5 linked regions of the Homo sapiens genome follow. The protein of the gene in region 3 purifies or fractionates together with the protein of the main gene of each other region. This does not show direct contact. Each region holds a gene or a part of one and is shown on either strand. Other genes may lie near its edges. The genes, in order: APAF1, C5orf34, RAD51B, ZNHIT6 and TBC1D2B.

What was found.
Region 1: the proteins of RAD51B (region 3) and APAF1 purify together in Homo sapiens (affinity purification with mass spectrometry; one large-scale study listed by BioGRID and IntAct). This does not show direct contact.
Region 2: the proteins of RAD51B (region 3) and C5orf34 purify together in Homo sapiens (affinity purification with mass spectrometry; one large-scale study listed by BioGRID and IntAct). This does not show direct contact.
Region 4: the proteins of RAD51B (region 3) and ZNHIT6 purify together in Homo sapiens (affinity purification with mass spectrometry; one large-scale study listed by BioGRID and IntAct). This does not show direct contact.
Region 5: the proteins of RAD51B (region 3) and TBC1D2B purify together in Homo sapiens (affinity purification with mass spectrometry; one large-scale study listed by BioGRID and IntAct). This does not show direct contact.

What each region holds. Positions count from the first base shown.
Region 1 is NC_000012.12:98,647,709-98,654,082, reverse strand, and holds part of APAF1 (apoptotic protease-activating factor 1), read right to left. Parts: intron 5,765-6,374; 5' UTR 5,724-5,764; coding exon 5,586-5,723; intron 5,458-5,585; coding exon 5,268-5,457; intron 4,597-5,267; coding exon 4,399-4,596; intron 1-4,398. UniProt on the Homo sapiens protein: Oligomeric Apaf-1 mediates the cytochrome c-dependent autocatalytic activation of pro-caspase-9 (Apaf-3), leading to the activation of caspase-3 and apoptosis. This activation requires ATP. Isoform 6 is less effective in inducing apoptosis.
Region 2 is NC_000005.10:43,486,209-43,491,552, reverse strand, and holds the end of C5orf34 (uncharacterized protein C5orf34), read left to right. Parts: intron 1-823; coding exon 824-922; intron 923-2,563; coding exon of another isoform or gene 2,564-2,594; exon of another isoform or gene 2,595-3,603; coding exon 3,604-3,644; exon of another isoform or gene 3,645-4,441; coding exon 4,442-4,638; 3' UTR 4,639-4,844; downstream 4,845-5,344.
Region 3 is NC_000014.9:67,817,357-67,824,527, forward strand, and holds the start of RAD51B (DNA repair protein RAD51 homolog 2), read left to right. Parts: upstream 1-2,422; 5' UTR 2,423-2,497; intron 2,498-6,184; exon of another isoform or gene 6,185-6,185; 5' UTR 6,186-6,187; coding exon 6,188-6,271; intron 6,272-7,171. UniProt on the Homo sapiens protein: Involved in the homologous recombination repair (HRR) pathway of double-stranded DNA breaks arising during DNA replication or induced by DNA-damaging agents. May promote the assembly of presynaptic RAD51 nucleoprotein filaments.
Region 4 is NC_000001.11:85,679,247-85,685,620, forward strand, and holds part of ZNHIT6 (box C/D snoRNA protein 1), read right to left. Parts: intron 1,659-6,374; coding exon 1,590-1,658; intron 203-1,589; exon of another isoform or gene 127-202; intron 1-126. UniProt on the Homo sapiens protein: Required for box C/D snoRNAs accumulation involved in snoRNA processing, snoRNA transport to the nucleolus and ribosome biogenesis.
Region 5 is NC_000015.10:78,069,508-78,075,881, reverse strand, and holds part of TBC1D2B (TBC1 domain family member 2B), read left to right. Parts: intron 1-6,374. UniProt on the Homo sapiens protein: GTPase-activating protein that plays a role in the early steps of endocytosis.

The sequences.
Region 1 (6,374 bases), on a different chromosome or scaffold from region 3:
TTTGCATGAGGAGGCTGTATTTACAATTCACTCAGAGAAACTAATTCAGAGAAAAGTTGCCTTTATTCAGGGAAAACTCCACACTACTTTCACAGGAGGCTTATCCTGGTAGCAATTAATAATCTAATAACACAAAGAAATCTTGGAAAGGACAGAAACAAATAGGAACACAGCCTATGAAGAAAGCATCCATGATTAAAAACCAACATACGAATACAGTAATGTAAAATGTCACTACTGTATTTAAAGATACGTCAATTCTTTACTATTTCCCTACAAATAAGAAAAAATTAAAGCATTGAAATTTCAAAAGACAACTGGGTTACTTAAAACTGTATAGACATAAATAGTTAAAAACTATATATATATATATATATATATATATATATATTTTTTTTTTTTTTTTTTTTTTTTTTTTTTTTTTTTGAGACGGCATCTCACTCTGTCACCCAGGATGGAGAGCAGTGGTGCAATCTTGGCTCGCTGCAACCTCTGCCTCCCATGTTCAAGCGATTCTTATGCCTCAGCCACCTGGGTAGCTGGGATTACAGGCATGCGCCACCACGCCCAGCAAATTTTTGTATTTTTAGTAGAGACGGGGTTTCACCATGTTGGCCAGGCTGGTCTCAAACTCCTGACCTCAAATGATCTGTCCACCTCGGCCTCCCAGAGTGCTGGGATTACAGGCACGAGCCACCACACCCAGCTAAAAGTTAACAACTTAATATTCTTTAATTTATGCCAATCACCACCCAAAGAAAACATTTCCATAGGAACCACAATTTTAATCAAATTTAGATCTCTTATATTATCTGTACTTTTAAAAGAAAAGGTTTTGCAATACAATTAAATGTCAAAAATCCAATGTTCCTGTATTTGAGAATGGAAGTGAACTCCAGAGATTAAAATTTATCTTTGGGAAAGCACCTATTCTTGAATTAGTGGACATACAAAGGCAGACTCCAGAGAATAAAGAACTAAATATGAATAATAAGACTGTAATAGGACTACTTGAACAAAACTCAGGAAACACAAGTTAGAAGACAAAAAAAAAAACTGATTAGTTTGACTACATCAGAGTTCTCGTCTACTGAGAACACCCAGGAAAAAAATTAATCAGATGGCAAATTAAAATAAGGTATTTAAAAGTCTAAAACCAGCTGAGCACAGTGGCTCACGCCTGTAATACCAGCACTTTGGGAGGCGAGGCAGGGGGATCACCTGAGGTCGGGAGTTCGAGACCAGCCTGACCAACATGGAGAAACCCCGTCTCTACTAAAAATACAAAATTAGCCAGGCGTGGTGGTGGGTGCCTGTAATCCCAGCTACTCAGAAGGCTGAGGCAGGACAATCGCTTGAACCTGGGAAGCAGAGATTGTGGTGAGCCAAGATCGCGCCATGGCACTCCAGCCTGGGCAACAAGAGCGAAACTCCGTCTCAAAAAAAATAAAATAAAATAAAATAAAAGTCTAAAACCAACAAAGTTTAATGTCTAGAATATATAAGAAACTCCTAAAAAGCAAAAAGAAAAAAAAATTGGAAACCCCAATGGAAAATAGACAAATAATATAAACAAAATCCATAAAAAAAGAAACCCAAAAGGCTAACAACAAGCTTATGAAGAAATGTTCAAACTTGAGTTACCAGAGAAATGCAAAGTAAAAGACACAACTTTATAGAAGTTTGCCTGGCAAAAATTACAAAGCTGGATCATACCAACCGTCACTGCACAAGTAGAATTATCGGAGTCCCCATACTCATCTGGGGGAAATGTACAGACTGGAGGGGAATCAAATTTGGTATTTGTATATCCTATCATTTAGTAATTTTGGCTGGACATGGTGACTTTCATCTGTAACCCCAGCACTTTGGGAGGCCAAGGCGGGAGCATCACTTGAGCCCAGGAGTTTGAGACCAGCCTGGACAAGATAGCAAAAACCTGTCTCTACAAAAAAATGTTTAAAAACACACCAAGCATGGTGGCTTACACCTGCAATTCCAGCACTTTGGGAGGCCAAGGTGGGTGAATTGCTTGAGCTCAGGAGTTCGAGACCAACCTCGGTAACATGACAAAACCCCAACTCTACAAAAAATACAAAAATTAGCTGGGTGTGTCAGCATGCACCTGTGGTCCCAGCTACTCCGGAGGCTGAGGTGGGAAGATCACTTGAGCCCAGAAGGCAGAGGTTGCAGGGAGCCAAGATTGTGCCACTGCACTCCAGCCTGGGTGACAAAGCAAGACCCTGTTTCATAAATAAATAATTAGCCAGGCATGGTGGCGTGTGCACCCAGCTCCTCAGGAGGCTAAGGTGGGAGGATCACTTGAGCCTAAAAGTTTGAGGCTGCAGTGAGCTATGATATGGCCACTGCACTCAGCCTGGGCAACAGGGTGACACTCTGTCTCTTTAAAAAAAAACAAAAATAAATAAATAATTACTAATTTTGCTCCTAGCTACAAATACCCAAGAAATTCTTACTCACATAGAAGTTCAACCCAGCTTTGCTGCAGCAGCAGAGAGTTGGATACAATCTACATATCCATTTACTTAGGGTAATGAGCAGTAAAATGGGTTGGTGGCAATCAGGTGTAACAAATAACATGTATACATAGCAACAAGGATAAATCTTAAAAACATTGTGTCATGGGAGATAAAAAACAGAATAATACCATAACATCTATGCAAATTTAAAATACCTGCATACCAACAACATACATATTTTACAAGAGTACACACTTTACACAGACATTTACAAAGAACATACATTAAATACATTAGGATTGTCCATGGAGAGGGGAAAGGAAATAAGAATAGGAAATTTTGAAATGGAAATAAATAAATACAGTGAAAAGCTCAGCCTAGTACAGATCTACTATAATAAGCCGTGAACTAAGGAATATGAATAACTCAGTCCTCTGAACTTGAGATCCCACAAAAGTACGAGGAATATGAATTAAGCTCACATGTACAGTTGCCAGTATCTCTAGGATTTTCTCAAAACAAAGTAGTTAAAACCTGTTCCAAGATAACAATTTATACAATATGACTCCTGAATATTTAATTCCATAGATTGTTAGTCAATTTTAATCCCTAGAATTGAAAATTCATCACAATAATGTAGAGCAATTTAAATGGGGAGAGGGAGTGTTCTTTTAAACCTATAAATTGGAATATTATAAATACACAAAGAAAGTTCATAATATTGAAAGGAAAACTCATTCCTTCACACTAAAGGAACTTAAGCTAAATTTATCCTGAAATATCCTTAGTGATCAACTTTGCAGTAGGGGCTTAAAAAAATCCTTGGCTCTGAGACTTGAAAGGAGCTAAGTCTCAGGAAACTTCTCTGTAATGATAGAGGGGAAAAACCAAGGGTTAGGAATCAGGCATACTTCTGACAAGAGTATAGTCTATACCACTTACAAAGGCTATGAAATTAAACTGAGGCCATGTGTACACATAGATATACCCTAGCCTCCATATTTCTAAGTCTCTTAGAGGCTTACTACTTATTCCAATCATTCTGTCTAAACTGTCTTAACCGTAGATCATGTTATACATACATATCAAAAAAAAAAAAACAAAAAACTTTTTTTTGAGATGGAGTCTTGCTCTTGTTGACCAGGCTGGAGTGCAGTGGTGCGATCTCAGCTCACTGCAACCTCCGCCTCCTAGGTTCAAGTGATTCTCCTGCCTCAGCCTCCCGAGTAGCTGGGATTACAGGTGCTCACCACCACACCCAGCTGATTTTTTTTGTATTTTTGGTAGAGACGGGATTTCACCATGTTGCCCAGGCTGGTCTTGAACTCCTGACCTCAGGTGATCCACGCCTCAGCTGGGATTACAAGCATGAGCCACCGTGCCTGGCCTACTAAAAAAAAAATTATTAACTACTAGAAGTTGGGAACTGTCTTTGAATTCCCCTAGAAGTGTCATACAGAGAGAACACACTGATGAATGAGAACACACTGATGAATGGGGGCAGCCTAGAACTGATGGAGCTATACAACTATTCCTGATGAATACCCTGAGAACCTACCAGGATCGCTAAGGTCAGTGGTATACCTGCCAACATTTCTTAAACCCTCTTCTACCCAGTATGCCCTTCCCCACCCCAGTAACCACCCACTACCTTTCCCACCTTCCCTAGTCTCCCATCCCTACCTTCACTGCCTAGCTAACTTTTATTCTTTCTCCAAACTCCTGCTAAGATGTCATCTCATTCAGGAAGCTTGTCCTATCCATCCCCTCCCTTCAGAGAGTTAACATATCCTTCCTTTGTTCTAACTCTGTACCTTATACTTGTTTCTACCATTCAATTTATCACGTATTGATATATCATAATATTTTTACATGTCTATCTACCTTACTAGACTATGAAATGGACTAAGACACTTACCTTCTAAAAGGGAATGATCTCTAACAGCTTCTGCAGCTAATACAGACTTCCCACAGCCTGCCATTCCATGTATGGTGACCCATCCTGGTTCACCTTTCAATTTGGAGAGCTTCTGCTGAATTGCATTCACCAGCTTCTTCCTTGTGACAAAAACAACTGGCCTCTGTGGTACTCCACCTTCACACAGGACTGTCCTTACTAAAATCCAAAACAAAACAAGCATGAATGAATAGAACTTTGGAATAATTACTGAAGTAATACCATAAAAAACAAAGAGCAAAGCTGAGGCTTAGCCTGAAAATTTCCAAGAGAAGTTAAGAAAATGTGGCTAGCATATTAACTTCAATTTTCTGATTTCTCAGACAACAGAGAGCAAAGACAAACATATATCCTTCAAGATGACTAAAGAAAATGGAAGTTTCTATCTATATCTGCTTTACTCACCCAATTATTTCCTGACTTTTCATTCCCTCTCATATTGAAGACTGGGAAGGCAAGTGTAAAAGGAAGAACATTTATGGAATACCTTTCAAGAACATATATTTCTAAAGATTCTTATTTTTTCCTATAAACTCTATAAACACATAGAACTGGAAAATAAACAAGGGCCTATAAATTGTCTTATTGTCTCTAAAAATTAGGGTAGACATATTATTATCTCAGCAGTACAGTTCACTGGGCAAGAAGAAAAGTTGAGAGTTAATGTGGATGCAAATAAAAAATATTTAAATTGAAAACATCACTACAATTTTTTTAACATGCAGTTTTCAGTGAACTGGTCACACTCTCTTCAAAAGATTACATCTACAATAAGACAAACCCAAAGCAATTTTGATAGCAAAGTGATAGAAGGTATAATGGATACAAACCATACGAAGTTATTCCACTAACTGAATCTTTACCACTGGAAGAAGAGACAACAGGAATGCCATCATGGAGAAGGGCAGCAAGATCTTTATATCCTTCATGTAGTAGAGCATTGTAGAATGATACGTAGGAATCATTATCTTTTTTAAGTATCATTTTAATCAGCATAGCTGCTCTTTGCTGTTGAGTGGGCTAAAAAAAATTAAGTAGTTTAGTATACAACAATGAATATGTATGCAACATAAAGTAGTGGAGACCAGTACAAGTTCTGAAATTCTAAAAATTTTTAAGGAAGTGTGGACTGCTTCAGAGAGCTTTACCTCATTTCTTACTTTTTCCTCTTCTGATATTGTTAAAAATCCATCACTAATCATGTGATCCATGATGTAGGATGTCTTGATGTCCTTTTCCAGAGCTTCTCTATGTTGAAGCAAACAATTTCGAGCTTTTGCATCCATCTTCCCTCAGATCTTTCTCTCTCTGAGCTGTCAACCATGAGCTACAGCCAAAACACCAAAATATTTGTCAGGCCAATAAAAATATGAAAAGATACATAATCTCACTAATAAACAAGAAACGTAAAAAGAACAAAACTGATTTTTTTTCCTTGGCAAAAATTTTTAAATGGACAAAACCCAGTGCTTGGAAAGGTATGAGAAAATGGCCATTCTTATGCACTAATTGGGGAAACTAGAAAATGAATGCAATTTTTCTGGAAAGCAGTAAGATATGGAATTGTTTAAAATAAGCTTTCTCTCTAACCCAGAAATCCCATTTCTAAGGATTTACTTCAAGGAGACATTCAAATACATATGTAAAAATATCCACAAGGAGAATTAATGAGTTTCCAATCAGGTGTGGTAGCTCAAGCCTATAATCCCAGCACATTGGGAGGCTAGAGTAAAAAATAAAAAGAAAAAAGAATTAATGGAGGATGTTTCAGTGATGAACGCAACCTAAATGTCCATCATTCTGAATATAGATTTTAAAAATTAGGGTATGTATATAAAATGGAATATTATGCAGCCATTCAAAATTATGACACATATCTCCATGTATTGACATGGAAAGATGTTCATAATACTGTTGCTGAAAAAAAAAAAAAAAAA
Region 2 (5,344 bases), on a different chromosome or scaffold from region 3:
CTGTATATTTCTATAAAGTGGATAAAATTACGCAATGATTATCTTAAAATGGGGAAGAGTCTTCAGCTTTTTATGAATTTTTTTTCTTTTGGTTTATCTAATTTATTACAGTAAATCTTGTGATAGTCTTCACATTTTAGTGATTTCACTTGAGAATATTCACAAAATAATAGCTTTTTGTTACCTCTTGAATGTATTTTTCTGTTGGGTTTTATTGTGTTTCAGTCTAAGTGCTCATTCATTGCTATTAATGATTTGCCTCAAAAAAGATAGTTTCTTTAGCAAACATTTCTATTGATTCAGCCAATCATTTCAGATCATTCATTTTATTAAACTTGATACTTGTTTTAGATATGTAGTAAGTTACATATAATTACACATATGCATACAAGCATATGTGTATATGCATTAGCAGGTGTTTTTTGGTTTAAATTTTAGTAAGCAAATGCTCAGTCAGTCTTATTTTGTGTGAATATTTTTTGATAAAACTTAAACGCATTTTACTTTGAAAAACTAAAAGAATTAGAACATTTAAAATTGAACTTTAAATGAAATCCAAATATCGCCTTTATTTTGATTCTTAAATGTCACTTGTATTAATCACAAATATAAGTAAATCATTTTATTCTTGATGAATAATGGAAAAAATTTGGCTTTTCTATGACCAGTGAAAAATATTTTGAGAATTGCCCAGTAAATGCTTCACTTTAACATTTTTTCTTTATCCTTTTTTCCCAAATTGTCTTATTTTTACATTTGTTTATAATTTTATAATGTATTCAAGTTCATTTTTCAAGTATTTCTTTTAATGTATTCACTTTAGATATGTGACAACAGTAACATCATGGTGCAGGAGACTGACCCAGACTAGTCCCAGAGAGATGCCCACTCATTCGTCATCTTCTGTTCTCCAAGAAAATTGGTATTTTTCTTTTAAACTTAAATCTGTTTAGAAGAGCTAATACTTTAAAAAAAATTAAAATGTCAAATGGTAAACTGAGACTTTTTTCCCCAAAAAAACTTTCTTAGTTTTGAATATGTTTAACTCCTAAAGTATTTTTGATAGCTTAAGCTTGAAAATAATTTCTAATCAGACATCTAATTTATTACATTTCATCATATTCTATTTTACCTAAAGGTAAGAAAACCTTGCATTGAAAACTTAACATGAAAATGAGTGGCTCTTTTTATGTGACAAATTCATCCTGAAAACTTTATGGAAAAATTTAAAGGGGATTCTTAAATTTTTAGTAATGTTGAAGGAAATAAAAGGTTTAATAACATAAGCTTTCAGAAAACATTGATTTTTAAATAATTTCTGTCATATTAGTTACTTCTCCCAAATTAACTGGCAGATCAAATAAAGCAAGTATTTTAGTCCCTCCTGTGTGCTTTTCAGTGTGCAGGGTACTAGAACTGGGCTTCAAGGGAACTTTCTGTGAAAATATAAGACATTTTAGGGAGGAAATAAGGGCAGAAGTAAAAAGGATATTTTAGCCTGTGGAGATAGAAGATAGTTTTTATGGAACATATGCTATCTATTAGTATATAGTATGAGTTTTGAGGGCTAGGAATGGATCTTATAATAAATAGGAGTTCAGACCTGATGGAATTAGAAAGTCCTAAATGGAAAAATGATAGGAAGAAAGGTCATTAGAAGATTAGTGTCACTGAGAGTCTAACCTGAATATATGGGAAGACAGGGATACCAGGAACAATTTGGGAAGCTTTTTAAGTAAGTTTTGTGAGGTGACCTAACATAGTGTAGTGAAACAAAATGTAAACATTAAGCCAATTTTTGTTACCTTTTCCTAAGCCCTTTCTTAGAACAAATCAAATCATATCAGTAAGCGTTATTTGAATATCTCAGGTAGCTTAAGGATCCAGCTTTGCAGATCCCTCATCCTTTAGCTGTAGCCTGTTTGGAAGCAGAAAAGTTGCTAAAGTAACTAGCAAAAAACAATTGTGATGGAAGGAAAATTGTACTTGTCTATAAAACCATCACTTCACCATTGCTTAGCTGGCAGTTTGTAAAATATCATCAGCCTTTTTATTTGAAAGCTGAGAAGAGGCTGTCAATACACACTAAAAACTGCAAGTAGAGATTGGTGATAGTAGCTAAAGGTGAAAGCAACTAGGAACAGCAGAGGCAAGATAAAGAAATTGAGGAGTAGCTCCATTCCCCCTATAAAGCCTTAGGTATCTCCACTTCGGTTTTTCTTATCAAAGAGGGTAGGTTGAAGGAAGAAACAAGATTGTACAATAAAAAGCTACCTAAGTTGTATTCTAGTATTTTTTTTCCGCCACACCCTCCATTATTAGCTTATTAATTCAACTTTTTAGTCAACAAATAGTACGTTTCATAAAAAGTTCGTTCATTATGAGAGCAATAACAATAAAGGTTGTATTGTTTCTTACATCCAGAAAAATGCGTTGGGTTTAAAAAAAAAAAGATATTTTGCAATAATGAACAATCAGCTGGTTGTTGGGGTAAGTTGTATCCAAGTTCTTTGCCACAGGTGTTTAAAATTATGAAATATTTCTTTTCATTCTCCATCCATAGGCTGGAGTACAAGGGAAAGAGTACAAGCTGACAGGGAGGTGCATGTGATCTGTTGTAGTAAAGCCAATAAAGCAGACAAGTCACACAACCTACTACGAACTGTGAAGATTTTTCTGGTGACTTGAATATTTTAGACTAATGTCTTCATTAATTTTGCAGAGAGCTAGTCAAGTTACAGTTTGTAGTTGTATGCCATTGCTCATATTTCATTCTAACTTGATAAGAAAAAGGATAAAGAACACACACTTAGGGGTTCTGCTGGAGACGTATATATTAGCCCTCTACTCCATACCAGTTGTCCCACTATCTTTCTATAGAACATGGTATAAGAGCTAATGTTCATCATGTTAACCCTCTGTGCTTAAAAAAACAATGAAATAAGTAGGTAGTCTATTCCAGAAAGAATTTAATAAAAAATAGTTGTTTTGACACGTAATTCAACTATTTAAAAACTTGGATCTCCCATACCATCCATTCCCAAAGAGTTCCATATAAATGAGGTCTTAATATATGCACAAGTACAGAAAAGTAAAAAATCCTTTCTTCTGAGAGAAACAATCTAGGTAGGAAGAGCAGGAAGTTAAATAGTTCAAGAGAAGATATTACAAATAAGTATGTGATTAATTAATATGCTATAGGAATTCAAGGAAGGAGAGAGCAGTTCTTTCACAGAAGGAATGGGATTTTAATAGGTTTGTAAAGTTTGCGTAAACTTTAGGGAGGAAAGTAGAGTGTAAGCTAGGTTAGTACTAAGAAGTAACAGGAAGGCCCATTATCCTCAAACATCAATATTTGATTACAAATTCCTTGAAGTGGATTTACAAGGGGTAGACTTTTATTCACTTACCTTTAAAGGCACTCAGTAAGTATCAGTTGAGTCAAGTTGATTTGTTGCTAAATAAAGGTAACATAAAGAGAATTCTTCTGCGTTCTTCCGTTTAAAATTCTAATGAAAAAAAAAGTCAGGTATGCTTATTTGAAATATCATGAATACAAAAGAATCAGACAACTGAATGAATTTTTTCTTTTTCCTTGGACAGGTCTGTTGCTTCTGAACTTGAAAAGATACAGAAGTTTAACTGTATCCTTTAAACAGAATGCACTGTCCTACATAATTACTCTCTTTCATTCTAGGCTTAATTCATGACTTCAGTACTTTGTGAATATTAATCTATACTTAATATATTGCTAACCTTTATTGAGTCAGCAAATACCTAAGATTGTAATTTAAGATGGATCTTGTCCATAGAAGGTATAGCATGTTAACATTTATACTTTTCTTTGAGTTTAAATTGGGCAAAGAACAGTTAATTAGGGTTAAGGTCTCCTTTGGAGACTTTTTCACTTACATAATTATATAATAAAATTATAACTGTTTAAGACCTCTTTTTTTAAATGAAATATTTCATTCTGTACATTCTCACCCAATTCATCTAAATTTGTTTTCTCTTGTGGTTTTTCTCTAATCTTATTCAAATAAGTTAGTTCTATAGCGAACAGGTTTTTCACTCTAAATCTTTTTAAATTAAAAATAGACACTACACAGATTCCTTATAATCCTGTCATCCTACTCTTTAATTCCCGTGTCATTTCTTCACTTAAAGAAATGTTACTGAAATTTTCATTTCCTCCTTACCACCAAACCTCCACCCAAACACACACATACACACTCTATTCTCTTTCCCCCTCCCTTATACTGTAATTAGTTTCTTCATCTACAAGGAGCAGACTTGATAAGCCTTGCAGTTCCAACTGTATTATGAATCCAAGAGGTCTTCCAGCTGAGAAATATTTTAATATGAAGCCTATGCTTTCTGTATATAAAGATATTTATATAGTGAAAAATGTGGGGAAAACCTCCTTAACTAAGCAACTTAGTGCTACTAGAAAATAGTGGTATCCTAAACCAGATTTCTAACAAGAAAAATGAACAACAGTCTTTTGATCATTATAAACCAGGATCTTCAGAAACCTTGCTAGGAGAAGTTAATGAAAATAGAGTATCAATAGCATTGAAAAAAACCTCTGAAATCCTTCACGATATTGACTGTCTTCTATCAAACTCTAAAAAGTGAAAAATGGAATTATTACAACATATTATTAAAGTTTAAGGATGTTGTTTCAAGTGACTGGTATAAAATTACTAGTAAGCCAAGATATTGTACGTATTACCCCGGCACAATGATTGTGAAAGAACTGACATTTAACTTTGAAGGTATTTTTAACTTGTACATTTTTAAAATATGTATTTATATCTTAATAATAAATATTTCGAAGTTTTGAACGTTTCACATTTAATTCTTATTTCAGATTAACAAGAAAAAAAATTTGTAACATTATAAAGTTGTTGCTGTTTTTATCTTGTGGAGCATTCACTATTAATCTTCAGGTTTTTTCATTTTGTTTGTTTTTACTGTTTGAGATACGGTCTTGCTTTGTCACCCAGGCTGCAATGCAGTGGTGCAATCATAGCTCACTGCAGCCTTGAACTTGTGGGCTCAAGGGATCTTCCCACCTCAGCCTTCTGAGTAGCTGGAACCACAGACATGTACCACCATGCCTGGCTAATTTTTAAAAATTTTTTTTGTAGAGACAGGAATCTCCCTATCTTGCCCAGGCTGGTCTTGAACTCCTGGCTTCAAGCTATCCTCCTGCCTCCGTTTCCCAAAATGCTGGAATTACAGGTGTGAGCCACTGCACCCAGCCTCTTTTTTTTTAATATGCAGAATTGTGCATTTGTTCACTTGCTATTTGGTCCCTTTACTCCAAGTATTTTTCAGT
Region 3 (7,171 bases):
AGACGGTGGGCTAAATTATAAGACAGAAGTATGCATAAGAGATCAGAGAGCAAAGAATGAGCAAAGGCTTTTTCGCAAACACAATAATCTGAAACCAAGTCTTTTGTTTTGAGACAGAGTCTCGCTCTGTCTCCCAGGCTGGAGTGCAATGGCGCGATCTCGGCTCGCTGCAACCTCCGTCTCCCGGGTTTAAGCGATTCTCCTGCCTCAGCCTCACTGTGTAGCTGGGATAAGCGATTCTTCTGCCTCAGCCTCACTGAGTAGCTGGGATTTACAGGCGCGCGCCACCACACCCGGCTAATTTTTGTATTTTTAATAGAGACAGGGGTTCACCATGTTGGCCAGGCTGGTCTCGAACTCCTGACCTCAGGCAATCCGCCCACCTCGGCCTCCCAAAGTTCTGGGATTACGGGCGTGAGCCACCGTTCCCAGCCTGAAACCAACTCTTGAAGTAACGGCTTACTAGGTTTGCTCACCACAGCTGCCTTACACCAAGCCTTTTGTTTGGTTTCCCTGGTGTGCTTTAATCACAGACTCTCAGCTTTCCTCACTATGTGTGTTTCAGGTTTAGTAATTTCATTCAGCATTTCCCAAACTATTTAATCACCAAAGGGTGGTGAAAAGAGCAAGTTAAAACAAACAAAACGTTTTCTTCCAAAAACTCTTCTGTGATTGGTGGATTGTCCTCGATTCCTGAGAAAAGTAACATGGCTTTCTGGCCCATTAAGGTTTTTTTTTTTTTTGAGGCAATGTCTGGCTCCTCTCACCTCAGCCTCCCAAGTAGCTGGGATCACAGGTGCCTGCCACCATGTCTGGCTAATTTTTGTATGTTTAGTAGAGGCGGGGTTTCGCCATGTTGGCCAGGCTGGTTTCGAAATCCTGAGCTCAAGTGATCTGCCTGCCTCAGCATTCCGAAGTGAAACCGCCTTTGCAAAATTATAACTGAGGAAATTATGACAGTGAAAGAAATCAGACCTAACCGACTCTATCTTGCTTCTAACCGTTAAGCTGTCCTTGTTCATTCCTGGGCGTAGGCTGAACTAACTTTGGGGAGGAATTCAGTTCATGGTTTGACTCTGAAACAAAATTGATAACAGCCCTTTCCGAAAAGACCCACTTCTTGCCTGGGGACCAGTCTGCCTTTGCAGGACTAACAAATTAGCTACAAGTTTAGAAATTACAGTTTAGAGGTCATGCAGCCTCTGGCTCCAAGAGTCTGAACCTCCCCAAATTGCTCCCGGGGGTGACATCACTATTGCAAGCCCTAAGATCAGTGCTTGAGATATTTTGTAGACCCTGCACTCCATGGATCAGCTGACACCACTCAGACCAGTAATTTGGCGCAACCAGTTTTGCCATCACACCCAGGAACAGAAGACATTAAGAAAACCTCACTTCGACCCCTTATGATTCCATCTCCAACCTGACCAATCAGCACTCCCCACTTCCTAAGCCCCTACCAGCCAAATTATTGGTAAAAACTCCGATCCGCAAATGCTCGGGACAACTGATTTAAGTAACAATAAAACTTCAGTCTTCCGCACAGCTGGCTCTGCGTGAATTACTCTTTCTGCATTGCAATTCCCCTGTCCTGATAAATCGGTTCTGTCTAGGCAGCTGGTAAGGTGAACCCATCGGGCAGTTTCAAAAGTGCTGGGATTACAGGCATGAGCCACCGCGCCCAGCCTATTTTTTGTATTTTTTTGTAGAGGCGGAGGGGTGGGGGAGGGTGTCTCACTATGTTGCCAAGGCTAGTCTCGAACTCCCAGGCTCAAGTGATCCTCCCGCCTCGGTCTCCCAAAGTGCTGAAATTACGGGCGTGAGCCACTGCGTCTGGCCCCTTTAAGCCATTGTGAAAAGTGATGATACACGAAAAAAAAGATTTCCAGGGCCGAGAGCGGTGGATCACGCCTGTAATCCCAGCGCTTTGGGAGGCCGAAGCGGGCGGATCACGAGGTCAGGAAATCGAGACCATCCTGGCTAACACGGTGAAACCCCGTCTCTACTAAAAATACAAAAAAATTAGCCGGGCGTGGTGGTGGGAGCCTGTAGTCCCAGCTACTAGGGAGGTTGAGGCAGGAGAATGGCGTGAACCCAGGAGGCGGAGCTTGCAGTGAGCCGAGATCGCGCCACTGCACTCCAGCCTGGGCGACAGAGCGAGACCCCGTCTCAAAAAAAAAAAAAAAGAAAGAAAAAAGAAAAATTTCCAAACAGGGTGTTCCCTTGTTTCACATTCTCTTTGGTGATGGTCCTGCAACAGATTTTGATAATCACTATATTGAGAAACTGCTTCAGATTCGATCTGTTAGGCTGATCATAGTATTAACTACAATTCCCAGCAAGCCGCGGAGCCAACCTGGGCCTCTGCCGGCCTCTGATTGGATACAGTAGCCAGAATGACGACTCAATCAGTGCTTCGGTTGTTGCTTTGCGGCGTTTTCCGCGGGGAAACTGTGTAAAGGGTGGGGAAACTTGAAAGTTGGATGCTGCAGACCCGGTACTGGAAAGTTTCATGTGGGGTGCCGTTGTGGGGAAGTGGGGTTCGCTCATTATTTCCTGCTCCTTCCCTAGGCTCGTGGGTTTCGATATTGGGGGAGCGGAGATTTTCTCTTGGGTGCTGGTCACGCCCCCTTAAGACTCGGGATCGTCACTAAGAACCCCGCTGTGAATTGGGGGAGCTTCGGGCCTTCTTTTGGTGGGGAATGCTTGGAAGCTGCTCATTGTTGGAAAAAGCTCTTTTTAGGGGATTCTGGGTGATGTTTCCGCCTGTTGCTGCCCATCTTCCTCCCCAGCCCCTTCCCGCTTCGGGCAGCCTGTCATTAGGGGAAGTTGAGGGACTCTCCCACTTCAGGTGGTGTTGGAGAGCGTGGAATCTGGAGTCCGGTCCCTGGATTCGAATGCGAGCTTCACACCAATTGTCAGCTGTTTAACTTTGCCCAAGTTTCTCAACTAGTTACCTCAGTATCCTTATCTGTAAAGTGAGGTAAAATATCCGAAGCCTTTGGAACAGTGTGGCACGTAATAAGGGCTCAATAAATATTAGCTAATATTGTTCCTAAACAGTTGTTGAACATCTAACATGAAGAATTTTCTTTTCTTGGTGGTAAGGAGGACAGGGTTCATTCTCCAGGGTTGACCGTCTCCCCTCATGTGCAATACACATACGTGCTTTCGCGCACACATACACCGCAGGAATTTACGTGCTCCGGTGGGGGCAAACAAACTTGCAAGCCATAATAGTATTTTGATAAGATTATCGAATAGATATGTGCGAAGTTGATGAGAACATTGGAGAGGAAAAGACTTGACTCTGGGGAAGGTTTTGTGGAGGGAAGTCAGGGAGACAGGATGCGTGACCTACCAATACACATACCATGTGGCTGGAGGGCAGATCATGTGAGAGTCATTAAATGATGATTGCTGACCTTAAGTACTATGTGCCACGCACTCCCCGAGTCCTTTAACCTCCACTACAGTCATATGAAGTAGTAAATTCATATGACTGTAAAACAAGGGTTTTAAGGAAATTAAGACACTGAGAGGTGAAGTAACTGCCAGGAAGGATAGGAACTGAACGTTGCAATGTGATGTATGAGTGAGAAGGAAGTGAGGGACCAATTTTTGATGTTTTTCTCTGCGACCCTAAGAAGTTTGGAATTTATCCTGTGGTCTACCAGTCCCATGGGAAGTGTTAAAGGATAATCGTGACTTTTTAGGAAGCTACTCAAGGCAGGATTGTGACACTGATCTGACTTTTGCAGGCGAATTTGGGGCTTCTTCCTGTCTGCTTCCATAGCACTTTTAAATAGCAATTGTAATGCTTACTGCATGGCTGTAGTTATTTGTGTGTACCTCTCTTTTCATCTCAACTATGAGTATTCAAAGGGGAGGGAATATGCTTAAATGATTCTTGTACCCCAGACCTCAGCAGGGTGTGTATTTAAATGCCTGTGGAAGGAGTAAATTAAGGAACAAATGAATGGAGTGGCCAGAAACAATATGCAATAGTCCAGGCAAGTGATGGGAGTGGCCCTATTAAGGCAGAAATGGCAGAATTGGTTGTTGTTAAAGTCCTTGTAGTTTAGAATTTATAGTTTTTTGTTTGTTTGTTTTTTGTTTTTGATAGGGTCTCAGTCTGTTCCCCAGGCTAGAGTGCAGTGGCATGACCACAGCTCACTGCAGGCTCGACCTCCTGGGCTCAGGTGATCCTCTCATCTCAGCCTCCTGGGTAGCTAGGACTACTACAGGTGTGCGGCACAATGCCCAGCTAATTTTTGTATTTTTTTGTGGAGACAGGTTCTCTCTATGTTGCCCAGGCTGGTCTCAAACTCCTGGGCTCAAGCAATTTGCCTGCCTTAGCCTCCCAAAGTGCTGGGATTGTAGGCGTGAGCTACCTTGTGTGGCCTATGGTTCTTTTCTTTCTCCTTCTTTTTTTTTTTAAATTGAATTTATCAGTCTAAATGGTGTCATTACTTGAAACTACCTGATCTGAAAAGACACTAGGCAATATTATAGCAGGTATCACTTGGTTTTCTACTGGGGGAAACAAGTCATTGCTAACAAATTCCCATGGAGAGAAATGAGGAGGATGTATTTTTGTTTGTGAGAGGTGTGTATGTATGTATATTGTGTGTGCGTGTGTGTGTGTGTGAGAGAGAGAGATTGATTCAGTCTGATTCAGAGAATTTAGGTGTTAAATAGAAATTTGGGCCATGGTATTGGAAATAAACAAATATATACATTCTCAGTATACATATATTTTCATTCCAAAATGTTACTTCTTTTCTGATAACTATATTGCTTTATTCCTTGGATCCATGAAGAGTTCCTGTTTCAGTTCGTTCCAGAGGATACTTCTTTACCATCTCAATGAGATATACAGCTTCTCCTTTGTATGCATTAAGAGACTCACAGTAATTCTTTTTTAGCTCTGTGAAGATAAATCTTTCATGAGCCTCATTTACCCCTAGCAAGGTACAATAGTGAAATTTAACTGCATGTGAGAATATAAGCAGCTAGTGTAATAAAGAACATTTTGGGCCAGGTCTGATCGCTCATGCCTGTAATCCCAGCACTTTAGGAGGTCAAGGCGAGAGGATCACTTGAGCCCAGGAGTTCGAGACCAGCTTGGGCAACATGGCAAAACCCTGTCTCTACAAAAAATACAAAAATTGGGCAGGCATGGTGTCGACCCTGTCTCTACAAAAAATACAAAAATTAGCCAGACATGGTGGTGCACGCTTGTGGTCCCAGCTACTTGGGAGGCTGAGGTAGGAGGATTGCTTGAGCCCAGGAGGGGGAGGTTGCAGTGAGCTGAGATCGAGCCACTGCACTCCAGCTGGGGTGACAGAGCCAGACCTGTCTCGCTCTCTCTCTCTCTCTCTATATATATATTTAAAAAGAACATTTTAATACTGCAGTGATAAAATCTCATTTGATTCAGAAGGTGTGCTCTGACTCCTAGAAAAAGGAAGAGTTAAATATGATTATGGACTTGCAGTAGAGTGTAATGGTTAAGAGGATAGGTTTCAGAATTAGACTGCCTGGATTCAAATTCTGGATCAGTTATTTATGTTTTCTGGTGACAATGGACTAGCTAACTTTTCCAGGCTTTAGTTTTCTCATATGTAAAAAAGGGGCCAATAATCTACTTTCCTTCTAGGGCTATTGAGAAGATTAAATGTGATAATTTAGATAAGTTTTGGAACAGTGCCTGGTATGTGGTAGGTGCTCCATAAATATACCTATTGCCGTTACAGTGCAATGTAAATTGTTACAGTGCAATAGACTTTCTAGTAGTTCTGTTTGGAAATATGCCTTGAAAGTTAATTACATTTCCAAATAAAATTTATACATGCATTGAACATTTTAAGATGCTCTACAAATGTGAAGTGGTACTATATTCATGTAGTAAATATCAATTAATTGTGTGAAATTATATTTGAGGTTGCCTTGTAGATTTTCTATGTGCCTGTTTGACGAACAATTGTCCCTCCTATTTAAAACATTTAAAAAGGTTCTATAGCATTCCTTTATCAGTAATATTTTTAACACAATATGTTTCATTTTGCATATGGAGAAACTTGAGGAATTTTTAATTTTGTTTTGGATAGCCTATTCACTATCACTTATGTTATATTCTGTTGTTTTTTTCATGGTTCTTCTTTTCTTTGCTGGATCTGGAGGCATGGGTAGCAAGAAACTAAAACGAGTGGGTTTATCACAAGAGCTGTGTGACCGTCTGAGTAGACATCAGATCCTTACCTGTCAGGTAAATTTTATTTAACATTTTTATTGATAAGTTTTATGCACAAGTTAACTTTATACCTTAATACCTCTTAAACTTGAAATATGAAAATGTAGGCTTACAAAAAAAAGATAAATGATGGTGCTTTTCCATAGGCTAATTGTAAATATCAAGCCTCCTTGGGTGCATTTCCAACTGCTATTTCATTTACCCAAATTTAGTATTTTTGCATTTTGAGGGGAAAGTGGTCACGGCATAAGGTGAAGTAACAGCTTTACTGTTTTATAGTTACATGAGAAATAGGACTCAAATGAGGAGATACTATTCAACATGTATCATTTCTCTTAAAAGCAAAAGAAATTAATAGACCATTTTCTTATTGATGGAGCATGAGAAATATATAGAGCGGATCTTGCATTTTTAAGCAAGGTGGTGAAGCAAATCCTCCTTAGCAGGGTAAATAAGATTTAAAGGTTTTGGTTGGTTGTTTTTGTTCTTTGTTGTTTTTGAGACTAGGTTCTCATGCTGCCCCAGCTGATCTTGAACTCCTGGCCTTAAGCAATCCTCCAGCCTCAACTCCCAGCTAGCTGGGATTACAGGCACACACCACTGTGCCTGGCTAGATTTAAGGTTTTATCTTAGGATTTTATCCTTTTTTTGTTTGTTTGTTTAGAGTCAGTGTCTCACTCTGTTGCCCAGGCTGGAGTACAGTGGTGCCATATCGGCTCACTGCAATCTCCTCCTCCCCGGTTCAAGTGATTCTCCTGCTTCCATCTCCTGAGTAGCTGGGATTACAGGCACATGCCACCACACCCAGCTAATTTTTGGATTTTTAGTAGAAACGGGGTTTCACCATGTTGGCCAGGCTAGTCTCAAATTCCTGATCTCAAGTGATCCGCCTCCCTCAGCCTCCCAAAGTGCTAG
Region 4 (6,374 bases), on a different chromosome or scaffold from region 3:
CTTCCATATATGCACGCTGTTTTAAACTTATCTATAAAGCTGTATAAACAAAATTAAGACACTGTTTTAAAACAGTAACTTTCCTCAACCATTTATACATATTCATATATACTATTGGCTACATACCCCTAGATGTAAAATAAGTCTTTTCCTTGTATGCAACTCCAAATAACAAAGTTCTTCACTAAAATCCCTTTGACAACTACAAAGAGAGGATATTTATGTATAATATAGGAATATGCTAAATATACTACTTAAAGAGCAACTTTAAAATTTTCCTAAATCAAGGAATGAAATAGTTCACAAACATTAAAATGTTTTTTTTTTTTTTTTTTAATTTTTTTGTTGTTGTTGTTGAGACAGAGTCTTGCTCTGTCGCCCAGGCTGGAGTGCAGTGGCATGATCTTGGCTCACTGCAACCTCCGCCTCCTGCATTTAAGCTATTCTCATGCCTCAGCTTCCCAAGTAGCTGTGATTACAGGGGTGCGCCACTTCCCCCAGCTAATTTTTGTATTTTTAGTAGAGACGGGGTTTCACCATGTTGGCCAAGCTGGTCTCTAACTCCTGGCCAAAGGCAATCCATCCGCCTCGACCTCCCAAAGTGCTGGGATTATAGGTGTGAGCCGCTGCATCTGGCCAACATTAAAATGTTTAAATGACACTTGAAAATGTTTATAGGCTGGATGCGGTGGCTCACACTTGTAATTCCGACATTTTGGGAGGCAGAGAGGGGAGGATTGCTTGAGGCCAGGAGTTTGAGACCTGCCTGGGCAACATAGTGAGGCCTTGCCTCTACAAAACTAAACAAGATTAGCTGGGCGTGATGGCCTGAGCCTTTAGTCCCACCTACTTGGAGGCTGAGGTAGGAGGATCACCTGAGCCCAGGAGGTTGAAGCTGCAGTGAGCGGAGGTCCGCACCACTGCACTCCAGCGTGGGCAACAGAGCAAGATCCTGCCCCCACTCCCCTCCAAAAATAAAGAAAAAGAAAAGAACAAGTTTTAATATGAAACAGTAACACAAAAACTTTATGCAAATTAATTCCAATGAGTACACATATATACTTCTAAAATAATGTATTTTCTGAGTGATACACTATAATGTTAATAGTAGTAATCTTTGCATGGTAGAATTTTGGGTCATTTTTCACTTCCTTAACAACCACCCAGCTGAAGAAATAGGAAACTTTCAGCCGTCTAATTCTCCTCGGATCCCTCTCCTCAATACTTGCTTTGCTGCTAAAGAAACCATCATCAGGATTTCTATGTTAATAATTTCCCTTAGAGTTAGTTCTATCACCTTTGTAGGTATTCCCAAAAGTACACTATTTAGTTTTCTGGCTTTTTTCCCCCATATTTACAATCATGTTCTCTACATTCTTCCTTAACTTGCTTTTCTTATATTATTTCTGAGATTCATCCATGTTGATGTGCATAGCTGTAGTTCATTTTTAGTGATGTTTAGCATTTCATTGTATAAATACACCACAATTTAGTTATCCATTCTACTACTGACATTAAGTTAACAGTTTATTTTAAATACACAGCCTTCAAATTAAAACAAATCAGTGATTGAAAGATAGCAGTGATACCTTTTTTCTATGTACTCAGCTTGACTTTGAGGAAACTGGAGCTTCACATGCCAACAAAACTGTTGTTTTCTAAGAGAGAAAATAATCATGTGAGAATCAAGGTAGATAATAAAAGTCTGGATGCAAATTGAACTTTCTAAATTTTCACTTTAAGATAATTCCAAAATTATTCTTAGACTTTAACATATATTTTCTATTAAGAGCTAATTTCTCTTGCAAGGGTTATTAAGAAAGAAAAAAAAGGGAAGCAGTTCTAAATTCCAAGGACTTCACATTTCTGAATCAGAAAGCAATTTCTCATAGTTCAGGGGCTTTTGGGAGCAGTGTGCTACTATTTGAAGTTTACAAATAAATTTCCTCATGACTAAATACAATGAGCTGATGTCTTTGCTTGACTAGTCTGGAAATTAGGTGAATGAAGTATTGTCCGGTTGAGTCCAGCTGGCTGGAGATACACTTCTGAGGCATGAGTACGTGCATTCAGTAGCAAAACAGGAGACAACAAGCTGGTTGCTAAGCAGAATGCACTTTGAGCTACAGTCTTTTTGCTTTCAGGTCTAAACTTTGGTTTGACATAGCATCAACAGCAATAACTCACTAAATGTCTGATTTTAGAAAAATGACTATATTTAATATATCTAAATTTAGAGACATTGACATGATTCCTTCTTTAAAAATTCTAATGCTCAAAATATTGAATCCAATACAGAAATTTAAATGTCTTCACTACATGATGATTTTACACAATGTTTTCCTTACTTAGAAGAAATTTCTAACAATCCATTAGAGCAAGTTAATGACTACCGATATCTCCTTAAAATCTATCCCATAGCAGTAGGACCCCAAAATCTAAAATAATTTTCTTTTAATACAATCTATCTTTCACCAAACATCTATATGATTTAGTAGAATTTCTGTCAGAAGACAAAGAACATAATTTTATTGAGAACAAAGTTGAAAAGTACCCTTTACTAATCTAAAGGACAGATGTCTAAAATCTCAGAGGAAAAAACATTTAAAAATTTGAATGCAAAAGCAACAGTTACTAGTTTTAAATAAATAATTCTTCCAAAATAAAACATTTTGCAATATTCATTATCTGTGAAATAGGAATACCATAATAGCATTATCACAAGGCTGACTTTTTTTTTTTAATAAGAAATAAACAGATTTTGTTCATCTTTTTTTTTTTTTTTGAGACGGAGTTTCGCTCTGTTGCCCAGGCTAGAGTGCAGTGGCATGATCTCGGTTCACTGCAAGCTCCGCCTCCCGGATTCACACCATTCTCCTGCCTCTCTCCTGAATAGCTGGGACTACAGGTGCTCGCCACCACGCCCGGCTAATTTTTTTTTTTTTTTTTTGGTATTTTTAGTAGACACAGGGTTTCACTACGTTCGCCAGGATGGTCTCGATCTCCTGACCTCGTGATCCACCTGGCTCGGCCTCCCAAAGTGCTGGGATTACAGGCATGAGCCACCGCACCCGGCCTCATTTTGTTCATCTTAATGCATAATATAGTTTCTTCCTAAATGTATGTTTTTTCAGGTTAACTTAGGGAAAAAAAGGATTACCAACTTGCCATCTTATGGAATTGTAAACCATACTCAATCACCCCAATTCTTGCTTGAGTAATTTCAAAAACCATTCGCCTTTTAACATTTAATACACCCTGAATACATTCAGAAAGCACTTAACATTCCAAACACAGAGAGAAAAGCCCTCGGAAATCATTTTATTTGTTGTAGTTAACTAGCTCTACTTATAACAAAGTCATTCATTGCTATACATTGCCAAATTATTGATAAAAATATTTCTATATTTGGCCTCAGCTCACACATGAACAAATCTGAAAAGTACACTAACTTTTAAAATGTGATCTTCCAATATTTCAAAAACAAAGAAAAACAGAATAATGTAAAGAACACTCAATGCACCCATATTCAGATTTAACTCATTTACAAATTGCCGTATTTTTGAGGTACTTTTATTTCTTCTAAGAAATAAAGGGCTATTGATAACAGTAGATGATTCTTTATATGTACTTTAACCCAAGGTGGGCAAACAGAAGTTGAAGGGTGTTGTATAAAGAACTGCTGGGGATGGGCGCAGTGGCTAAAGCCTGTATAATCCCAGCAATTTGGGAGGCCAAGGTGGGCGCATCGTTTGAGCCCAGGAGTTTGAGATCAGCCTAGGCAACATGATGATACCCCATCTCTACAAAAAATACAAAAATGAGCCAGGCATGGTGGCGTATGCCTATAGTCCCAGCTACTCTGGAGGTTGAAGTGGGAGAATCACCTGAGCCCAGGAGATTAAGGCTGCAGTGAACTGCGACTGCGTCACTGCACTTCACCTGGGTGACACAATGAGACCCTGTTTCAAAAAAAAGAAAAAATTGCTAGGCCAGGCAAGGTGGCTCACGCCTCTAATCCCAGCACTTTGGGAGGCCAAGGTGGGCAGATCATGAGGTCAGGAGATCGAGACCATCCTGGCTCACATGGTGAAACCCCGTCTCTACTAAAAACACAAAAAATTAGTCAGGTGTGGTGGCATGTGCCTGTAGTCCCAGCTACTCGGGAGGCCGAGGCAGGAGAATCACATTGCTTGAACCCGGGAGGCGGAGCTTGCAGTGAGCTGAGATTGAGCCACTGCATTCCAGCCTGGGCGACAGAGCAAGATTCCGTCACAGAAAAAAAAAAAAAAAATTGCTGAAATGGGTGAGTTAATTTTCTCTAAAATGGTTTCCAATTCTTCAGTATTGCTGAAATTACTGTAAGTCCTGACATGTGTTCTTCTTAAGACTGAAAGAATTAAGCTTGTTTCTCATTTTTTTATAATTATATATACAAATATATGTCCCACTTAAAAAAATATACATACATCAAAATCCTAGCAACATTACTTGGATTACTTTCTAAAGCTAGATTCCAAGAAGTACAATCACTAAGACAGAGCAGGGTTTCTCAATCTCAGCAGTGCTGATATTTTGGACTAGATAATTCTTTGCAAAGGACTTGGTCCTTTGCACTGCAGGACGTTTAGCAGCATCCTAGGACTCCACCCTCTAGATGAGTGTTCCACTAGGAACACTCATACACCCAGTTGTGGCCACCAAAAATGCTCCCAGAAATTGCAAATGTCCCCTGGAAGCAGAATCATCACTGTTTGAGAACCACAAGGATAAAGGTTTGAACATTTACAATTACTCCTAATGCATTAGAGCTACTGTTCCCTAAATTCAACAAAATGCCTTCAACTACAATAATGTCACTATACCCTTGGCATATCAACGTTCTCAAAAATGGTATTACTATACCTAGTATATTCTAGGTAACTTAGGGACTCCAAGATACCATGTTTAGAGTTGGGTGATAAGACTGGTGGAGTAATTGTGGCAACTTAATCCTTATGTTCCCTTCTGGACAATCTGACAAAGCAACAGAAACACTAACCTCTTCTGAGTCCTATGAAACCCAAGTAACTATTCATGCATAGCAAAGCTGTTTCCCTCTCCTCCTCTAAATATCAATACACACATGCATTCTCAATGAGGGCAGCATGGCCCCAAAGAGGGCAAAAACTGGTTCTCTGAAGGGCCAACAAAATCTTGCTATTTTAATGCTTGTGGCCCTACAAAGGGCTACTGTATGCAACAGATATACAGTGTATCTATGGTATCAAAATATCACGGCAGAAAGCTCCTTGGGAGGCAATAATAAAAAAAAAGTTGAAAAATACTTAGATGGCACTTGTATTAAATGAGGAAAATAAATATTTTATACTCATTTTCAGTGAGTTAATACAGAGCACTTATTTACCAACACTTGCTTACTAGAAACTGTTAAGGATCAGTCTCTCCGTGGCCCATTTGTTTACAAAAATAGAAAGAAAAGGGATCATTCTCTCCCACAGTTTCAAGAAAGTATGTGGATGAACACACACATTTAAGGAAAGAGGTTCTATAACCATAATCTAAATTATTCTTTTGACTTCATAACTTCAAATTGCAAATTTTCGTATGGGGAATACTACCACAATCCCAAGGAAAAAGATGCAAATCAAAAGTCATTAGGTCCTTTTAAATGGCACTGCTCTAATGTCACAATAAGATGTTCAAATTCATTAATAACCAAAGAAATGTATATATAAATAAAATATTTTTCCTTTTCAGGTTTGTAGAAATGTTTTTTAAATTAGAAATACTAAGGAAGTGTGGCAAAAGTGTGGCAACTTCATTGCTGACAGGAATATAAATTGGTGCAAGCTACTGGTAGTTCAATTTCATAAAAGCTATAAATAAAAATTTGTAATTGAAAAACTGTATATTTTTGCCTCAATAGTTTTATTCCTGGAAATGTATCCCAAGGAAATAATTGGTCAAGTAATGATATATATATAAAATGTCCACTGCACCACTTTATATAATAGAAAAAAATTAGAAACAACCTAAATGTACATCATCAGAAAGTTGATTAAATAAATCATGGTACATCTACATAATGAATTTTAAGTAGTCATAAAAGATGAGGCAGAACTTTATGTACTGATGTAGAAAAATGTGCATGTTGAATGATAGCCTTTATATTTAAAACACAGGTTTATACATATATTGGCAAGTATGAAGGCCATACCCCAAACTTTTAGCTATGATTATTTCTTGACATTATAAAAGGACTTGACTTAATTTTTACCTACGAATATGTCTGTATTATTAAATAAATCTTCCACATAATGATTTGTGGGCTTTTTTTTCCTTTTTTGAGACAAGGTCTCACTCTGTCGCCT
Region 5 (6,374 bases), on a different chromosome or scaffold from region 3:
ACCCCCAGAGCTGCTAACAGCTGGAGCTGCTCCCTGGAGATGTTCTTAGAGCTTTGCTGACTCAGCTTTTGCCAGTTCAAGCAGGATCTGATTCCCATGTTCTCTTGGGCTCCCCTGTCCTGTCTGTAAGTGGGTGCAGACAGCCTGTTTCCCCAAAGAAAACCAACTCGGGTTGCAGTCCTACACAGGCTTACTTAGAGAGTGCCTGTATAAACTTGGTAATGACCCTAGTGGGAGACCTTTGCCAAAGGCAGAGGCTCTTCCTCAGTGTACATACGGGCTGTCCCTGTGTCGGACGAATTTCCTGTGGGATGTTTGTTAAAGAAAATAGAGCATCGTGTTTCACATTTTTCCCAGATGACTGTAGAACTCTATCAGTTTTTTTCATTAAAATAATCTGAATCTCCTGTAATCCCAGCACTTTGGGAGGCCGAGACGGGTGGATCACGAGGTCAGGAGCTCGAGACCATCCTGGCTAACACGGTGACACCCCATGTCTATTAAATATACAAAAAATTAGCCAGGCATGGTGGCGGGTGCCTGTAGTCCCAGTTATTCGGGAGGCTGAGGCAGGAGAATGGCGTGAACCCGGGAGGAAGAGCTTGCAGTGAGCAGAGATCGCGCCACTGCACTCAGCCTGGGTGACAGAGTGAGACTCCATCTCAAAAAAAATTAAAAAAAAAATAATAAATAAGAATCTACATAAGCAGGGTTACAAGGCGCATTGTCAGAAGTGTGGCTTTAAACTTCGATGGACTTGAACTTGAAGCAGGAGTCTGCTGCTCACACATATTGGACAAATTACACCAGTTCCCTGCTCCAGTTTCCTCTTTGGTCTAGTGGGAATCATACCTTCCTCATTAGGTGGCTGTGAGGATTCTGGAGAATGTTATGGAAAATGGCTGGCGCATTTTCCATAGTGGTATGGAAAATAGTAGGCACTACATGGCATATGAAACATCAAGCAGTGTCTTTGGCCAAATATGTAGTGTATTCATATAGTGGAATATTATGCAGTAGTAAACAAAGGTACTAGAGCTATAGGTGTCAACGTGGATTACTCTCACAAACAATAAAATTGAACAAGAAGTAAGTTACACACTGATTGTGTTCAGAATGATACCACTTATAGAAAGGTTAGGAAGATCATGTGAAACAGTACTACAGATCATAAGGATGTATGCTCTTTCGCGAGGGGAAGAGCTTTATGGGGCTGATGAGCTCTGGTTTCCAGGTAGTGGTTGCCTGTGATGGGAAGAGGGAGGATGTGATTGGGAATGGGTGCCTCAGGGCTTCTCCTGTTTTGCAGTGTTTTATTTCTTGGACTGGGTCATAGGTATATCAGTGTTTGTCCTATTATGCTATCCATCTTTTTGTAGGTTCAGAATATTTCTTTTTTTAAAGAAAGGAAATACATTTTCCTTTGGGTTACTGACAATGGAGGAATATTTTGACATGTAAAATTAAATTGGTCACAGAATAAGATAGTACCGAGTGTTGGCTGTATACAACAATGGGAATGGAAATCAGGCAAGGCTTTCTGGAAGAAGGGAGGAGAAGGCCGGGCGTGGTGGCTCATGCCTGTAATCCCAGCACTTTGGGAGGCCGAGGCGAGTGGATCACTTGAGGTCAGGAGTTCGAGACCAGCCTGGCCAATATGGTGAAACCCCATCTCTACTAAAAATACAAAAATTGGCTGGGCATGGTGGCGCACGCTGTAGTCCCAGCTGCTCGCGAGGCTGAGGCAGGAGAATTGCATGAACCCGGGAGGCGGAGGTTGCAGTGAGCCGAGATCACACCACTGCACTCCAGCCTGAGCGACAGAGTGAGACTCCACCTTAAAAACAAACAAACAAACAAACAAACAAGCAAAAAACACCCCGACTCTAAAACCCTGCTCCCTTTTTTTTTTTGAAACAGAGTCTTGCTGTGTCGCCCAGGCTGGAGTGCAGTGGCACAGTCTCTGCTAACTGCAACCTCTGGCTCCCGGGTTCAAGCAATTCTCCTGCCTCAGCCTTCCGAGCTGAGGGACTATAGGCGCGTGCCACCGCTCCCAGCTAATTTTTGTATTTTTAGTAGAGACGGGGTTTCACCATATTGGCCAGGCTGGTCTCGAACTCCTGACCTCGTGATCCACCTGCCTCTGCCTCTCAAAGTGCTGGGGTTACAGATATGAGCCACCGCACCCAGCCAGGCGTGTGTTTTAAGAAAATTAAATTTCATTGTACAGTTATTTCTTTTGAGCTGTAGGAGTAAAATCTTTATGGTGTAAGTATGGAAATTACCAATTTATCTTCCTTTTCGTCTTTCAAATGCAAGAACTGATTCCCTTAAGCCTTAATGTTTCACTTTAGGGCTGCCCAGCCATAGAGGAGACCCTGATTTCTAAGGATTTTAAGTTAGGATTTAGCCCTGCTCAGACTTCAGCTAGTGGTATATAATTTTACAAATACCATTTCTTATCACAGAGGGTTAAAAAGTAAAGAAAAATCAGCACTTTTCTTATTCTATTATCATATGTTTTTCTTATTTAAAAGTGTCTTTCAGCTCTCTCTGGAGAAGCTGTGGTTTTGTTGGGCTTTTTCAAAATGTTTTTCTATGTAAGTCTTAATGAAAGCTGATATAGGAATTTCTTGGGAAACTCCTCTATTCCCAAACTTAGGGATTTGATCTGGTGCCTTATGAGGTAATAGAGGCTAGAGAGGGGATGTGATTTTGCCAACATCATGAAGCTAGACTCAGACCCTCTCTGAAAGTAGAGGCTCCAGGAATAGTGAATGTCTAAAATGTGTAGTATCTAATTGTATTGTCTGTTCTGACAAGTCTGCTTTTTTTTGACTTTGTTGGGGATCGGATAAGGCGTAGTAGTAGTCTTTCCTTCTATTGCATTTAATATCTGTCCTTTTTGGATAGTGGGTATCACAAGGGAACATTTTACTGCCCAGTTCTTTACCAGGATGCCTAGTACCTTTTGCTGGACATGTCTGGAAACTGCTGCAAGGGTCTAGCAGAGGCTGATGCTTCCTGTGTGCGTCTCTCTCTGTGTGTAGGGGTGCTGGAGGCTTCTCACAGAGCTTTACTGGAATCTGAGGCACTTAGGGGAAGGAGAGCATGTGACTGACCGAGGGTGAAGCTTAAACAGCCTTGATCTTCCAGATCTCTGCAGACTTTGGAGCAAGAGAGCGTCATCAGACCGTCAGCAAATGAATTCCTCCCTCCGTAGGTGCTTGGTGCTAAATAGACATGTGTACTGGTTTCTGAGCCACACGTAACTGAATAGCTGTGTACCCCTATTCTTAACCACTTTTGTGGGAATGCACATTCCCTGGTGTTGAAATTTCTCTTAATGACAAACATTTGTCGGCTTGGGTAATCATATTGTTTTCAGTGCAAAATAGATGTGGTGAACCAGCCTCCTTTGCTGTTTGGTTCTTCTAAGCTGTTCTGCCCTAGGGCATCTGCTCAGTCTTGAAGCATTATTTAACTCTTTAAGTTATGGGAATTTAACTTTTCATGGCTTTCCAATTAGTAAGTTCCTTCAAGGCAAGTCCAGTATTGTGCTTGTGATATCACAGTGGCATTCCGTCTCCCTCTCCCACTGCCTCACACAGTCCTCATTGCAGGGGAGTCTCCATCCTATTTCCTGCTAACCAGAGGGTAAGCTCCCTAAGGACTGTGTGTATCCTCAGCTCCTGCAACAGTATCTGGCACAAAGGAGACATGCTATAAACTAGTGTTTGTGTTCCTGAAAAATTCGTATGTTGAAGTGCCAGCTCCCAGTGTGATGATATTTAGAGGTGGGGCCTTTGGGAGGTAATTAACTCATGAGGGTGGAGCCTTCACGAATGGGATTAGTGCCTTTATAAAAAGAGACCCTGGAGAGATGATCTCCCCTTCCACCTATGAGGATACAGCAAAAAGGCATTCCTTTGCAAACCAGGAAGAGGGCCCCCGCCAGGAACCAAATTGACCAGCACCTTGATTTTGGACATTCCAGCCTTCAGAACTGAGTAAATTTCTGTTGTTTAAGCCACTTAGTCTGTGGTGTTTTTGTTATAACAGCCTGAACCGACTAAGGTAAGGTGCCCAGGTAGACATTTGTTGCATGAATGAATAGAAAATGGTCACCCAGTAAGCACTGGTTTTGGTGTGAGCCCTGACCCTTTAGAAGTGATCAGCCAGAACTCCCAAATATACAGGTGTATTACATGCCATTCTTGCCTCATGTCATGGAGGTGGCAGCCATTCAGTGAATGCCCACTGAATTTAACAGACATCAGGAATCCAAAAGGGGGTTATGACTCACCCTTCCCCAGAGGAGAGAGCTTACAGTCAGTTCCATATTTTCGGGTCTCATATATTTCATGCCCATGGTCAGGACTCCAAGGACACTGTTATAGCAGAGGCAAACTTTTTATGTAAAGGGCCACATACTATTTTAGGTTTTGCGCACTCTGCCATATCTGTCACTATGCTGTTGTAGTACAGAAACAACCACAGAATGAGTATAGCTGTGTTTTAACTTTTAGTTATGGACTCTGAAATTTGGATTTCATATAATTTTCACATTTCGCAAAATATTCTTTTGATTTTTTTCAACCATTTAAAAATGTTAGCTGGGCACAGTGGCTCACTCCTGTAATCCCAGCACTTTGGGAGGCCGAAATGGGAGGATCACTTGATACCAATAGTTCGAGACCAGCCTAGGCAACAAAGTGAGACCCTATCCCTACAAAAATTAAAAAAAACTAGCCAGGTGTGGCTGGATGTGGTGGCTCACGCCTGTAATCCCAGCACTTTGGGAAGCCGAGGTGGGTGGATCACTTGAGGTCAGGAGTTTGAGACCAGCCTGACCAGCATGGTGAGACCCTGTCTCTACTAAAAATACAAAATTAGCTGGGTGTGGTGGCGGATGCCTGTAATCCCAGCTGCTTGGGAGGCTGAGGCAGGAGAATTGCTTGAACCCAGGAAACAGAGGTTGCAGCAAGCTGAGGTGGCGCCATTGCACTCCAGCCTGGGCGACAAGAGCGAAACTCTGTCTCAAAACAAAAAACAAACTAGCCAGGCATGATGGCACATGTCTTTAGTCCCAGCTACTTGGGAGGCTGAGGCAGGAGGACTGCTTGATCCCAGGAGGTGGACATTGCAGTGAGCTGTGTTTGCTCCACTGTACTCCAGCCTGGGTGACAGAGGGAGACCCTGTTTCAAAAAAATAAAATAGCAAAATAAAAATGTTAAAACTGCCCTTGCCTTGTAGATTGTACAGAAATAGGCAGAGACTGGAAATGACCGCAGGCTGTAGTTCACTGACTTGTGTTCTAGGAAGGCCTCAGGAGCTTCCCACTCATTCACTCACTGTGTGTGCTTAGGCACTGGGGATATGACTGGACAAGACAAACAGTCCCTGTCCTCCTGGAGCTTTCAGTAGGTGGGGGGGACAGACGTTAATAAAATATAACAAACACCAACCAGTGCTAGGAAGTTTGAAAGGAAAGATATGCAATGCATGTATAGTTCAGGATCTTGATCTGGTTTATGGTTGGTGGAGGGCTAGGAAAGACTTTCCTGAAGAAGCGACATTTGAGCTGAGACTCAAAGGATGAGTTGGTGTTGACTGGAGCGGGGGTGGGGGTGGAGAGGAGGAAGTCAAGTGTTGTAGGGAGAGGAAATGGCATAAGCAGAGGCCCTTAGGTGGGGGTGCTGGTTGCATGTGGGACTCAAGGAGTGCCTGGTGGCAACTAGGAGTGAAGGGGACATAGCCTTTGGAAGAGGCAGGCCTTGGGCCAGGGCAGGATTTTGGTCTTCATCTTAAGAGCTAGAGTCAGTAAAGAGTTTTAAGCAGGGTTTGACAAATAGGTTTTTGTTTTCTTTCTTCTGCTCCCAGATAGATTGTTTTAGGCCATTTGTGCTGCTGTGAAAAAATACCGTAGACAGGGTAGCTTATAAACAACAGAAATTTATTTCTCATAGTTCTGGAGGCTGGGAAGCCCAAGATGAAGGCACCAGCAGATTTGGTGTCTGGTGAGGGCTCACTCTGCTTTAGAGGTGGTGCCTTCTAGTGGTGTCCTCATAGCAGAAGGGGACAGACAAGTTCCTTCTGGGGCCTCCATCTATGTATGTTTGTATATATGTATGTATGTATCTATCTATCTAAATGTATTTTTCTCCTCAAATTCCTTTTACCACTCTGGCCTCTTTCATAAGGACCCTGATCTCATTCCAGAGGGCTCTGCCCTCATGACTTAAATCACTTCCCACAAGGCTTCCCTCTTAGTACTATCATCTTGGGGACTGGGTCTCAACACGTGAATTTTGCGGGGACACACGTTTGGACTGTGGCACTGATGGTTTGGTCATGCCTAGTATTTTTATGT